Regions from separate parts of the Homo sapiens genome. Here regions 1 and 2 are each linked to region 3. Evidence: fine-mapped expression QTL. A gene starts in region 3. Each other region holds a variant in brackets. All regions are shown on one strand. Distances are from middle to middle.

Evidence for each region. PIP is the estimated chance that this variant, and not a neighbour inherited with it, causes the effect.
Region 1: its variant is the best candidate, but not a certain one, in a credible set for the expression of ATP11B in whole blood (INTERVAL, PIP 0.86).
Region 2: its variant is the best candidate, but not a certain one, in a credible set for the expression of ATP11B in whole blood (INTERVAL, PIP 0.83).

What each region holds. Positions count from the first base shown.
Region 1 is chr3:182,847,837-182,852,081 of GRCh38, reverse strand. ATP11B (ATPase phospholipid transporting 11B (putative)) reads right to left here. Exons shown (of 30, transcript NM_014616.3): 10 at 3,525-3,606. Among named protein-coding and RNA genes, the nearest start is that of ATP11B, 56 kb to the right of the region's middle. The variant G/CACG (reference allele first, on the strand shown) is at 2,064.
Region 2 is chr3:182,823,300-182,827,544 of GRCh38, reverse strand. The region is part of intron 2 of ATP11B (ATPase phospholipid transporting 11B (putative)); the gene reads right to left. Among named protein-coding and RNA genes, the nearest start is that of ATP11B, 32 kb to the right of the region's middle. The variant C/A (reference allele first, on the strand shown) is at 1,703.
Region 3 is chr3:182,791,898-182,796,142 of GRCh38, reverse strand. ATP11B (ATPase phospholipid transporting 11B (putative)) reads right to left here and starts at 2,639. Exons shown (of 30, transcript NM_014616.3): 1 at 2,357-2,639. The coding sequence starts at 2,383. It overlaps ATP11B-DT (ATP11B divergent transcript), which reads left to right and starts at 2,779. Exons shown (of 3, transcript NR_187316.1): 1 at 2,779-3,063. RefSeq lists a silencer at 2,055-2,804.

The DNA of each region.
Region 1 (4,245 bases), 56 kb before region 3:
ATACTTTGTATGATTTCAATCTTTTGGGATTGGTTTTATGGCACATCATATGATCTGTCTAGATGAACTTTCCATGTATAATTATGGAACTATTCTAGTGTTCAGTTTTCATAGGCTTACAATATACATAGTATATCTTTTGATGTCAACCTATTTATATCTTTGTATGTAAACTGTATTTCTTCTAGACAGCATATAGTTGGGTCTGGCTCTTTTATCCAATCTGACAATCTCTGACTTCATTAGACTGTTTGATGCATTTATATCTCATGTAATTTTTGGTCAAATTTCGGACCACCATTTTGCTATTTGTTTTCTATTCTCTCATTTGGTTTTTTGTTTCGCTGTTCTTCCTTTCTTGCTGTTTACTGTGTTTACCAAACATTTTAATATTCAGTTGCTCTAACTTATTAGCTATAAATCTTTGCCTTATTGTTTTTAATGGAAGCTCTAGAGGTCAGAATATGCATCTTTACCTTATTGTAATTTATAGATGCTATTGTATTATTTCATGTAAAATGTAAGACCTTTGTAACAGTTCATTTAAAGCCCCCCATCATCTTTTGTGCTGTTTATGTAAGGGAAAAAGAAAGCTTAAAATTAATCATTTGAGTTCATCTAGCATCACAAGAAGTTAAAGAGAAATAATTAGACCCAAATTGAGAAGAAACGGAGGAAATTAATTGAAGATGTGAGCTGAAGGCAATGGAAAAGAGAAAAAAAATACACAAAATTAAAGCCAAAAGTTGGTTCTTTGAAAAATATTTATAAAGAGTCTTTTTTTATTTTTTGAGATGGAGTCTCGCTCTGTCACCCAGGCTGGAGTTCAGTGGTGCGATCTCGGCTCACTGAAACCTCTGCCTCCTGGGTTCAAGCAATTCTCTGCTTCAGCCTCCCAGGCAGCTGGGACTACAGGCGCACACTACCACACCCAGCTAATTTTGCATATTTAGTAGAGACAGGGTTTTGCCATGTTGACTAGATTGGCCTTGAACTCCTGACTTCAAGTGATCCACCCACCTCAGCCTCCCAAAGTGCTGGGATTACGGGTGTGTGCCACTAATGAAGTGTCTTTCTGTGCTTGCTTGTATCACTTAACATAATGATCTTCAGTTACATCCATGTTGCTGCTAATGACACGATTTCATTCTTCTTATGGCCAAATAGTATTCCATTGTGTGGGTATGTATACCTTTTTTTTTAGGTATGTATACATTTTTTTATCCATCCGTCTGCTGATGGACCGTTAGATTGAATCCTTATCTTTGCTATTATGAATAGTGCTGCAATAAACATGCAAGTGCAGATATTCCTTTGATATACTGATTTCTTTTTCTTTGGATAAAACCCAGTAGTGGGATTGTTGGATCATATGGTAATTACGTTTTTAGTTTTTTGAGACATCTCCAGGCTATTTTCCATAGTGGCTATCCTAACTTACATGCCCACCAACCACGTATAAGAGTTTTCTTTTCTCCATATCCCTGCCAGCATCTGTTATTTATTTATTTATTTATTTTTTGTCTTTTTAATAATAGCCATTCTGGCTGGCAAGATGACATCTCATTGTGGTTTTGATACACTTTTTTTTTGTTTTGTTTTGTTTTTTGAGATGGAGTCTCGCTCTGTTGCCCAGGCTGGAGTGCAGTGGCGTGATCTCAGCTCACTGCAACCTCTGCCTCCCAGGTTCAAACAATTCTCCTGCCTCAGCCTCCTGAGTAGCTGGGACTACAGGCACCCGCCACCACACCCGGCTGATTTTTGTATTTTTAGTAGAGACGGAGTTTCACCATGTTGGCCAGGCTGGTCTCGAACTCCTGACCTCAAGTGATCCTCCTGCCTTGGTCTCCCAAAGTGCTAGGATTACAGGCATGAGCCACCGTGCTCAGCGTTGAGTTGATTATTTATATGGTGAAAGATAGGGATCCAGTTTCATTCTTCTGCATGTAGCTATCCAATTTTCCCAGCATCATTTCCTGAAGAGGATGTCCTTTCCCCAATGTCCTCCGTTGTTTCTGATGAGAACTGGTTATCGCTTATATTGTTATTCATTTACATGTGAT[G/CACG]CATTTCTCTTCGGCTCCATGAAATATTTTCTTTTTCTTTGGATTCTAGTATTTTGACCATGATGTGCTTTGGTGTGGGTTTCTTTATATTTCTTTATATTTTTCCTGCTTAGAGTTTGCTGATCTTGGTAGCGTAGGCTGAAGTTTCTTCCTCAAATTTTAGAAATTTTCAGTCATTATTTTTTCAAATATTTTTATTCTGTCCTTTTTTCTCTTTTTTTGGGAATCAATTACACATATGCCAAACAGCTTAATATTATCCCACATGGCTCTGAAGCTCTGTTCATTTTTCCTAATCTTTTTTCCTCTCCATTCTTCGACTGAGTAATTTGTGTTTTCTTCAAGTTCACTGGTCTGATTTATTCAGTCTGGTGTTGAGACCCACCTAATGATGTTTCCATTTTAGTAATTATGTTTTTCAAGTCAAGAGTTTTCATTTCTCTGCTGTGTTTTCCCATATGTTCATTCAAATTTTCCTTTAGGCCCTTAAACATGTTTATAATAAATTTATAATATCTGCTTTAAAGTTCTCGTCTGCTAAATGCAAGATCTGGATCATTTTGGAGACAGTTTCTATTGAGTGCTTTTTATCTTATGGATGAATTACATTTTCTTCATATTCTGCTTATTTTTTATTGCAGACTGGACTTCATAATAATACATTGTAGACAGTCTGTATTCTTTTATGTTCCTCAGAAGAGTGCTATTTTTATTCCAGTAGGAAGTTAACTTCACCTAGTTCAACAAACTGTGTCTCCAATGCAATGGGCAGCAGTAAAATTCTGTTGAGTTCTTTTGTCTCCCTTGCACATGTATAGTTCTAGCAGTCAGCCAAGGACCTGGGCAGAATTTATGTGCAGTTTTTAGAGTTAATTCCATTCTGTAGCTTACATCTCATTGCTTACAGAAGGGAATTAATGCTAATCCCCTTACATTATTTTCCCCTAACTTTCCAGCTGCTCTTCCAGCTATTAACCTTGTCCTCTGATACTTCTATCCAGTAAAGTTCAGACTTTTTGATGTCCCAAGCAGCACATAAACTGGGGAGTGCCCTCAGGCAAAAAGCTATACTCTTAAATTTTCCCCCTTGCTGCTATCATCTTTCAGGATTACACTCCTTGCCCATTTCTATTCGATTCTGGTTTGTCTCCAATGTTTTCAAATAGTTGTTTATTTAAATTTTTTTTTCAGTTTTAGAACTGTTATCTGCGTTAGTGTGATTAAGTGATTCCACCATTTATTCAATAGTATTTATTTTAAAAGTCATACTATAGAGCATTTACTACATGTCCAATACTGTGCAAAATGTTACTTGTATGTAAAAATATAAGAAACTATCACTGTCCCCAAGGTTTTCATTCTGTTTACTTAATATATATTATATATATAATATTTTATACCAAACGAATAAAAAATGTAGAGTTATAATTACATATAAATAAATGAAAACAGTTTTCTTACTTTTCTACTGCAGATCGTTTCTGTGATTTGCTCTTGTAATTTAATGCCATCTTAGTTTCCATTCCAGTGTATACCGCAACACCTGTAAAATAAAACAAAATTGTCTCTTAAAATAATCCTCTAGCATGTTTCACAAGAAATAAATATATTTACCAGCATGAAAGCTTTTAGTGTACTGTCTGACAGTTGTTATAATTTTGCTTTTCTTTAAGTATTTTCAGAGTACTAAAAGGCTTTCTGAGTCCAATTTTGGGAAGCCCCAGTCACTCAACTGGCTAAATGGGGGAGGGCATGGAGTCCTGTTCCTGAGTTGTAACAGATACCTGAATGAAAAATTTATTACTTGAATTGGAATTGATAGAGGAAAAGAATCTGGAAAGATAAAAGTGTCAGGGAAGGCCATTACAAATACAGCAGTGTTAACAAAGACAGATATGGAAAAGCACTTTCTGTTAGGTTGGGACAATGGACTATGGCCACAGTGTGAAAAGCCCTGAATGCTGGAATCGGGGGTCTAGACATTATTCCATAACCATTGGAGAGATAACATGGAAGTCTGTCAGAGTAAATCAAGTAAGCACATGGAAAGTGCTATTTAAAAAATGTGCGCCTATTGAATGACTTTGAGATGAGCAAGGATGACAGTAGTAATGGGACTAAAACTGGACAACAAATGGAATTAGGTGAGACCAGCTTATCAAAAAACTTTGCAGCTAGACCT
Region 2 (4,245 bases), 31 kb before region 3:
AGGTAAGATAGTATAGCACAATGGTTAAAAGCATAGATGCTTGGGGTTAAACTGTGGTGGCCCAAATCTTAATTTGTAATACTCACTAAATGACCTTGGACTTAATCTCTCCGTGTCCCACTTTGCTCCTCTATAAAATGAGGATAATATTAATCATATCTTATAGGGTTCCTATAAACATTAAATCAGCTAACATACTGAAGAAGCACTTAGGACAGAACCTGGCTCATACTAATTGCTATAAAAGTGCTTATTATTATTACTCAGCTCAAAAACCTATAATGCTGTATTACAAGGGCAGAATAATATGCTGCAAATTTTATTTGTGTTACAACTCACAACATAACTTCATACATGAAACAGGGAAATTGATTTATAGAATGTTTACTTTATGTACATCCTCCCAGAAGAATATAAGATCCCTGAGGCCAGGGATATCATTTTATTTACTGTTCTATCTCTAGCACATATACTACTCCTTGGCACATAGGTAGAGATCAAATATTTTGCAGAATAGATTAATGAATAAATAAATATGGTTGACAACGGGTTTTTTCTGAGATAATATCCTGATCTCAGGCAATGAGGCCTCAATGGTTACTGACCAATTCAAGATTTCCAAAGAGGTACTTTACGTTACCTAGTGTCATGTCAGATGGCTCTAATTTTTGGATTTTCATTGTCAAAAGTTCACTTCTTAATTAGCTGTTTGAGACCTGAAACACTGTTTCCCACATGAACAACCTTATAAACAGAGTTAGGTTCCCAGAAAAGCCCACAAAAGCCTATCTGACCCAGGGATATGGAAAGACTAGTCCAATAGCAACAAACTTTCCTTCTTTGGTGAAATTATATTTTCAGTTTGAATCTGGAATATGTGAAACATATTTTCCCTGAGTAGTGGCGGCAGCAGTGGTTCCAGAATCTGAGGATGGGAAGTATGTTTAGGGCTCTAGAAAGAAGAGAGGTAGATACTTCCTGGAGCCAAAGGAAGTCAATGTTCAATGTATACACATGAGATGGTAATTGTGTGTCAAGTCACCTGCAGGTGATCTTAATTGGAATTAAAAATCAGTTGTCAGAGTATCTCAGTCACCAAATGTATAATACTTTATAAGGAAGGTTGGAAGTCTCCTAAGTTTACAGCAATCTATTTGAAACGTAACAGCAACAATATATTTTGTATTCCAGAATCCTGAAGAGAACAGCTATATAAATTGGCAGTAAAGTAATTGGTTTCAGGGTGTTTTCTTTGGCTAGTTCAATAATACAAGGAACAACTCAGAACAAATAAAAATTTCTTATGAAAACTAGCACATAAATGGTAGAAATTGTTTCTAGTTTTTCTGAAATACAAACATAATAGATTGTGAATGAGTCTAAATTCTGTGCTTGTCCTATTGTATAGAGAGGGAGAACTCTAGTAGCATAATATCAAACATTATGAAAATACTGCTAAGAAAATAATTTATTATGCTTTAAAGTTCTCTTTGTTATGTAATAATGGTTAAGACAAATGAATTAGAAGTGTAACTTCTCTATAGTCATATATGACTTTATAATTGACCTTATTTTCTCCTAAGAAAACTAAAACATGGCTATAAAATTAAATATTTTGCAAGAAGGTTATTTTATTTTATTTTTTTGAGACAGTCTCACTCTGTCTGCCCAGGCTGGAGTGCAGTGGCGCAATCTTGGCCCA[C/A]TGCAACCTCCGCCTCCTGAGTTCAAGCGATTCTCATGTCTCAGACTCCTGAGTAGCTGGGACTACTTGCATGCACCACCACACCTGGCTAATTTTTCTGTATTTTTTTTTTTTTTTTTTGAGACAGAGTCTCACTCAGTCACCCAGGCTGGAGTGCAGTGGCTCGATCTCTGTTCACTACAAGCTCCGCCTCCTGGGTTCATGCCATTCTCCTGCCTCAGCCTCCCAAGTAGCTGGGACTACAGGCAACCGCCACCACACCTGGCTAATTTTTTTGTATTTTTTTAGTAGAGACGGGGTTTCACCCTGTTGGCCAGGCTGTTCTCAAACTCCTGGCCTCAAGTGATCCGCCCACCTTGGCCTCCCAAAGTACTAGGATTACAGGTGTGTGCCACTACACATGGCCAAAGAAAGTTTAAATTTAAGATAATGTAGTTACTATGGCCAGTTAAAGACATACCACACAACCACAACATGCAAGACACTTCCACAATAAGAGAAACAGAAATAAGATGTTTAATATTAAGTAGAGGAGATTAAGAACAAAACATTAATAGCTGTATTCAAAGGTAAAGTGTATGAAAAAAATTTAACAAGACAGTCATATTTGACATGTGCTTTAAAAGAAGAACATTCAACAGGCTGAAAATCCAGGGCAAATAAGGGAGAACATTTCAGGAAGCTAGGACAGCATGAGCAAAGGGACAGGAGAAAAGCTCATCATGGCTTTGTGAGATAGAAAACAATGCAGTCTGGAAGGAGACCAAGAGAATAACAGGGGAGTGAAAGGTAGTAAAATGAAAGTAATGAGAAGCAGGCTTCATTTATGCTCAGGAAAAAAGTGACAGTATCTGTATAAATATTTACATTCTTGAAATTATGGTCAAAGATATGAATTCTACCTTTCTACAAAAACATAAAATCTACAATGTCCACAAATACATAAAATTTACATTTTAAAAATTGTGGCTAACAACATGAAATCAAAGCAAAGGCACAGTGGTAGGAAAGTTCAACATGAGTTTGTGGAATAACAGGTAATCTGTTTTGGAAGGAGTTTATGAAAGCAATAGTGGCGTAATAGGTAGTAATGAGACAGTCCTCATTTACCGTAAACATTTAAAAAGGCAATACTTCTTTAAACATCCACATTTTAAAAAATATGGTCAAAAACATTAAACCAAATACTTCTGTGTACAGAGACAGTCATTTAAAGATACTTATTTAATCCCAAAAGCTTTCTAGGAGGACACTCAGTTTCCACTATTGACAAAGAGGTGGTCCTGTGGACTCCCAGCAGATAAGAATTATAAAGATTACATTTTAAAAACTATGTCAAATACTGGAAAATGTCCAAAATATAGATGGAAACGGGAAGAGAGTTTAATTTCAAAAAATTGCAAATGGAAGAAGTATAAATTGTGAATTTTTGGCTTCTTAGCTTGGAGACAGTATCCACCTACCACACACAACAATGGCTGCAAAACAGCTGGGGAAAACTACAGCCTCATCAACAACATGTAACCAAGATTAGAGTTCAGGGCTGGAAAAGCAGCTGGAAATGTAAAGGGAAAATACTGATTGTCAGAGAACCACACAAAGAAAATGGCTTATATTCAAAACATTAACTACACAATTCCAGGCTGACAGCTAAACTATGCACTAGAAAGGAATGAATTACTGATACTAATACTTGCAACAACAAAAATGAACCCCAAAAGCATTATGTTACGAAAAAAGAAGTCAGGCACAAAAGACTTGTGTTGTATTATATGAAATTCTAGAAAAGAAAAAACTATAGTTACAGAAAGCAGATCAGTGGTTGCTAGTGCCTGGGGGGTGAGGAGGAGGGGGACCTGCTGCAAAAGACCATGAAAGATTTTTTTTGAAGCAATGGATATATTCCACATCTTGATTATGGCGGTGGTCAGATTTGTCAAAACTCATCAAACTGCACACTTAAAACTGATAAATTTTACTGTATGTAAATTATACCCCAAGTTAAAAAAAAAACCTAAAGTTTTCAAGAGCTTTTATTTCTTGCATAATTTCTTAAGAACTGTGTCACTACAAACAAATGGATGAACATTCCATGGCCATGGATAGGAAGAATCAACATCGTGAAAATGGCCATACTGCCCAAGGTAATTTATACATTTAATGCCATCCCCATCAAGCTACCAATGACTTTCTTCACAGAACTGGAAAAAACTACTTTAAAGTTCATATGGAACCAAAAAAGAGCCCGCATTGCCAAGACAATCCTAAGCCAAAAGAACAAAGCTGAAGACATCACGCTACCTGACTTCAAACTATACTACAAGGCTACAGTAACCAAAACAGCATGGTACTGGTACCAAAACAGATATATAGACCAATGGAACAGAACAGAGCCCTCAGAAATAATACCACACATCTACAACCATCTGATCTTTGACAAACCTGACAAAAACAAGAAATGGGGAAAGGAGTCCCTATTTAATAAATGGTGCTGGGAAAACCGGCTAGCCATATGTAGAAAGCTGAAACTGGATCCCTTTCTT
Region 3 (4,245 bases):
ACTTTCTGATTTTTCCATCTTCTCAAGTAGTGAAAATATTTTGTCATAAGGAGTCACACTTTTTTTTAATTAAAAAGAAATTACTAGAACATAGGCATTGTTTCTGTAATAAAAGGACTTTTTTGTGAGACATTAGTTGAAAATCGGGATTCATATAACGAATTAAATATGCTTATAACTCCAACCTGTCCTTAGGATTTGCTTGTCAATTTCCCCAAATTTGTCCTAGTTATCTGCATTTTAAAATAAACCCATTGCTGAAAGTCGTGGTGATTCAATCCATTAAGCCACTGGAAGTATAATCTAAACTAGCTTTTACCTGAGTTGAATAATTTCTGGTGCAGTAATCAGAATAGCTGTCTATGACTGGGATAGCAAAATATACTTTCATTACTCTGTATCCAGGGTCCTTGATGTTTAATTTATGTGATCATACAAACTTAACCAGAGACACAAAGTCCTACATTGGCCCAAGTATGATTACATACTTAGAGGATCTGATAACTTAAAACCAGTGAGGTGAGCAACTAAATGTCAGAGATAGCATTTTTTATGCACAGGAACTTGTTCAACTCGTTAACCATCCCTGTTAAGACGGCTGCCTTGTAAAATAACCACACACAACTTCCGGCCCTTCCTTTTAGCTGGGTTCATTTGAAGCCATTTTAAAAAACATTACCAGGTTTTCTGTCTTGAAGATGAGCATGGTTATACAACCAGGATTTTATTCTGGCTAAAAAATACCTAACAGTGAGAAAGGATGTCTCAATACATTTTTAAAAAAGCTTCAAGAGAACCACTTTAAAATGATCTTCCTACCACACAAAAACACCATCAGGTAAATCAGCCCTCTATACAAGAAGATTTGGCAAATCAAAAGCATAAGATCAAATCTGTAATAATTAACTTTCTGAGTAAAATTACTGTGCTACAGCTTACTGCAACAAAGCCAAAGTATTACAAGATGGTATTATAATGACATCATTAGCTTGGTTTCCTAATAAAGCATATATCTGGGATATCTGAATTTACAATGCTAAAAACAGAGACCCAACATTTGTAGGAGGGAGTGGTAGGCAGTTCTTATTTATAATTTTTTTTTTTTTTTGAGAATGATGCCCGCTGCAAAACGAAGTAACAGAAGGCTGGCTCTGAAACACCACACTTCTTGGTCTTAACGTTAAAATGCTTTTCTAGAGCAGAAGGGAAAAAGAGTTATCAGTGCTTTCGTCCCACAAAAATAGTTCCTGTTTCACTAAATTTTACCACTGCCTTTAGAATTAGTAAATGAAAACGCCAACTTGTAGAAGCATTAAGTTAATGCGATTTAGAAATTAAATAGTAACCGGCCTCATCACACAGATAAGGTTAGGCTTCTTCAGCCAGGGGCAATTTCTGTCCTAATTGTCACAGCTGCCTTAATGCTGTACTTTCTGCGCTGTAGCTGCCAGGAGGCAGATAAGATTTTTCTCTCTGAATTAATTCTGGGAAAGGTGGCACTTTTTATAGGCCTTAAATGACCCTTTTCTAAGATTTTTTGTTGGTGGTGTCCAGATGTTCCAATAATACTGGAGAGTTAACTATTCCTTCCAAACCTGTGTCGTTCAAACTGCCTTGAGGAGAACGGGAAAAAAGTAAGGTTCACACTCGAAAAGTTTCACTCGGGGTGGGGTGAGGACGAGGTAGGAAGGAAACGACAGTACGTATCGTTCGTAACTATCGTACAATACGTATCGTTTCCGAAGCTAGACCGGCAGCTGGCACAGTCTTTCCCCTTTCCAGGTCCTGGGGAGAAACGTCTCTCGCTGAGGGGGCTAGACACCTACGACAGCCTCCTCCTCGGGAATCAACACAGCTCTGGATCGTGACACGCTTCCAGAAGTCCGTGACGAGTGGGGGCAGAAGACAGGTTCTTCGCTTCCCCTTCACCCAAACACGTCCCAAATTGTTCGAGGCAGGAAGAGCACGCCTCTCTCATCTCCCCAAGACCTACTCTCGCTCAGCTCCCTCGCCCTGTTTCCTCTGGGGGCACCGCCACCCCGCTCGGGACTCCCGCCTCTGGCCACAGCAGCCCCGGAGCGGCAAGGGGGAAGAAGTAACGGAGAAGCGCCGGCTAGAAGCGGCCGCCTCCGGCCGCTCGGCGCCAGCCTCGGCGGCCCGGGCTTGGAGGCGAGACGAGCCCGGGAGCCGCACGGGGCTTCTCCGGCTCTGGGCCCCGCGCCCGTCTCCGCTGCGGCCTAGCCGGGCGCCCACGCCCTGGCCTCCCGGCTCCGCGCCGCCGGCCTTTCCCCGCCACCCCGGGCCGAGAGGCCCCGCGGGGGCGGACGAATGGAGGTGGAGGGGCGGGGGCACCTACCAGCTGCTGCCGGATCCAGCGCCACATTCCCCCGTCGTCGCCGTCCGGGTCCCGCGGGGCGCGGGGGCCGCGGGGCTGCAGGTGGAGGCCGACAAGACAGAGGCGGGAGCGGGCGAGCCCCTCGGGCCGAAGTTCCGCTTACCGCCGCCGCCGCCACTGCCTCACTCCCCGCGCCGCGTCCCCATCCCGCGGCGTCGGCCCCGAGTCCTACAGGCGCGGCCCCGGCGCCGCCCCCGCCCGGCGCAGCTGAGCCTGCCGCCGCGCCGCAGCCACCTTCATTATTGACCGTTGTCACCCAAAGCACCCCCGCAACCCCACCCCCGCCCCGCCCCGCCCGGCCCCCCGGCTCCACCCGGGACCGCCCCCGGCGCCCCGGCCCGCCCCCGGACGTGACGAAAGGGGGTGCGCGGACCGAGGGGGGCCTGGCGCGCCCCGCCGCCGTTCCGAGTTGGGGGGTTTCTGTGTTGTGGGTCCGGGAAGAAGCGAGCGTGGAAAGGTGCCGGGTTCTCGAACGCTGTTTCTGTCCACTGCCACCCTCCTCCCCGTTCTGGGAGTGGGATTAAGTCGTGTCTGTGGGTCTGGCCATCTCCGGAGTCTGCAGCTTGGGGCCGATTCCTCGGTCTCTACCTCCTGTTGCAGGTCTTTTTCGGGCTCTGTGGCTTCTTTGGTTCACGCGTCTCCCGACACGCATACGCACAGTCCTGAACGTATGTGACTGAAAGTTAATCCCCCCAGAAGTCCCAGTTTGGGTTCCATCAAGCTGTAAGAGCTTTCGTCTCAACACAAGTCAGGCCTCTTCTTTAGCAAATGGCTGAGACGGGGCTAGGGAAATCTTGATCACACCCATTAAGTGATTCGAAAGCGTTGCAAGTCCCCTGAGCCTGGTACAGCCTGGACCCGTGTTTCTAGGCGAATGGATGAGATATTCTGTCTTGCCGTGTGCTAAATTGGACAGGTTCAGGGGAAGATAATTTGTATAAAAAGGTAGTTCTTTACTGCTAACTGCCAAACTTCTGCAATCAAAAACACCCGTAGCAGTAACTTGACCTAGGTTAAAAAAGTGTGTGGATGACAAGCTCAGAAGGAATATACAAGCAACTGGAACAAGGCTTTGACTTAAAGGTTTGGCGTTGTTTAAAAGCAGCCCCGTATACATATTGTGTTATGTATATGTATTGAATGCTGTATTTTTGCTGAATTAAAGCACACTTCACCGACAGACGTTTGTGGTTAAAAAAAAAAAAATTAAGCGGCCGGGCGCGGTGGCTCACGCCTGTAATCCCATGTAATCCCAGCACTTTGGGAGGCCGAGGCGGGTGGATCACGAGGTCAGGAGATCGAGACCTTCCTGGCTAACATGGCGAAACCCCATCTCTACTAAAAAATACAAAACATTAGCCGAGCGTGGTGGCGGTCGCCTGTAGTCCCAGCTACTCGGGAGGCTGAGGCAGGAGAATGACGTGAACCCGGGAGGCAGAGCTTGCAGTGAGCCGAGATGGCGCCACTGCACTCCAGCCTGGGCGGCAGAAGGAGACTCCGTCTCAAAAAAAAAAAAAAAAAAAAAAAATTAAGCAAGAACAAATCTAAATGAGATTAGCATGACTAGGCAGGTCGTTGAATATGCATCCTCAATCTTCTAGTTTCAGTAGACATTTCTTACTATATAATGCTTATCCAGCACCACAAATAGAATCTTTCTTTGGGGATATTTATGATCTGTAAAACCAACATGGAATTTTATATTATAAATCATCCAACTTCAAAAAATAGCTAGATATTTGAAAAGTCATCTTACTTTTATTCTTGTGGCTAAACCTTACTTTATGACCCTAAAAGGAAGTTTTGAGATATATTTAGTGACAAAACCTTACTGCCATTCATGGAGCACT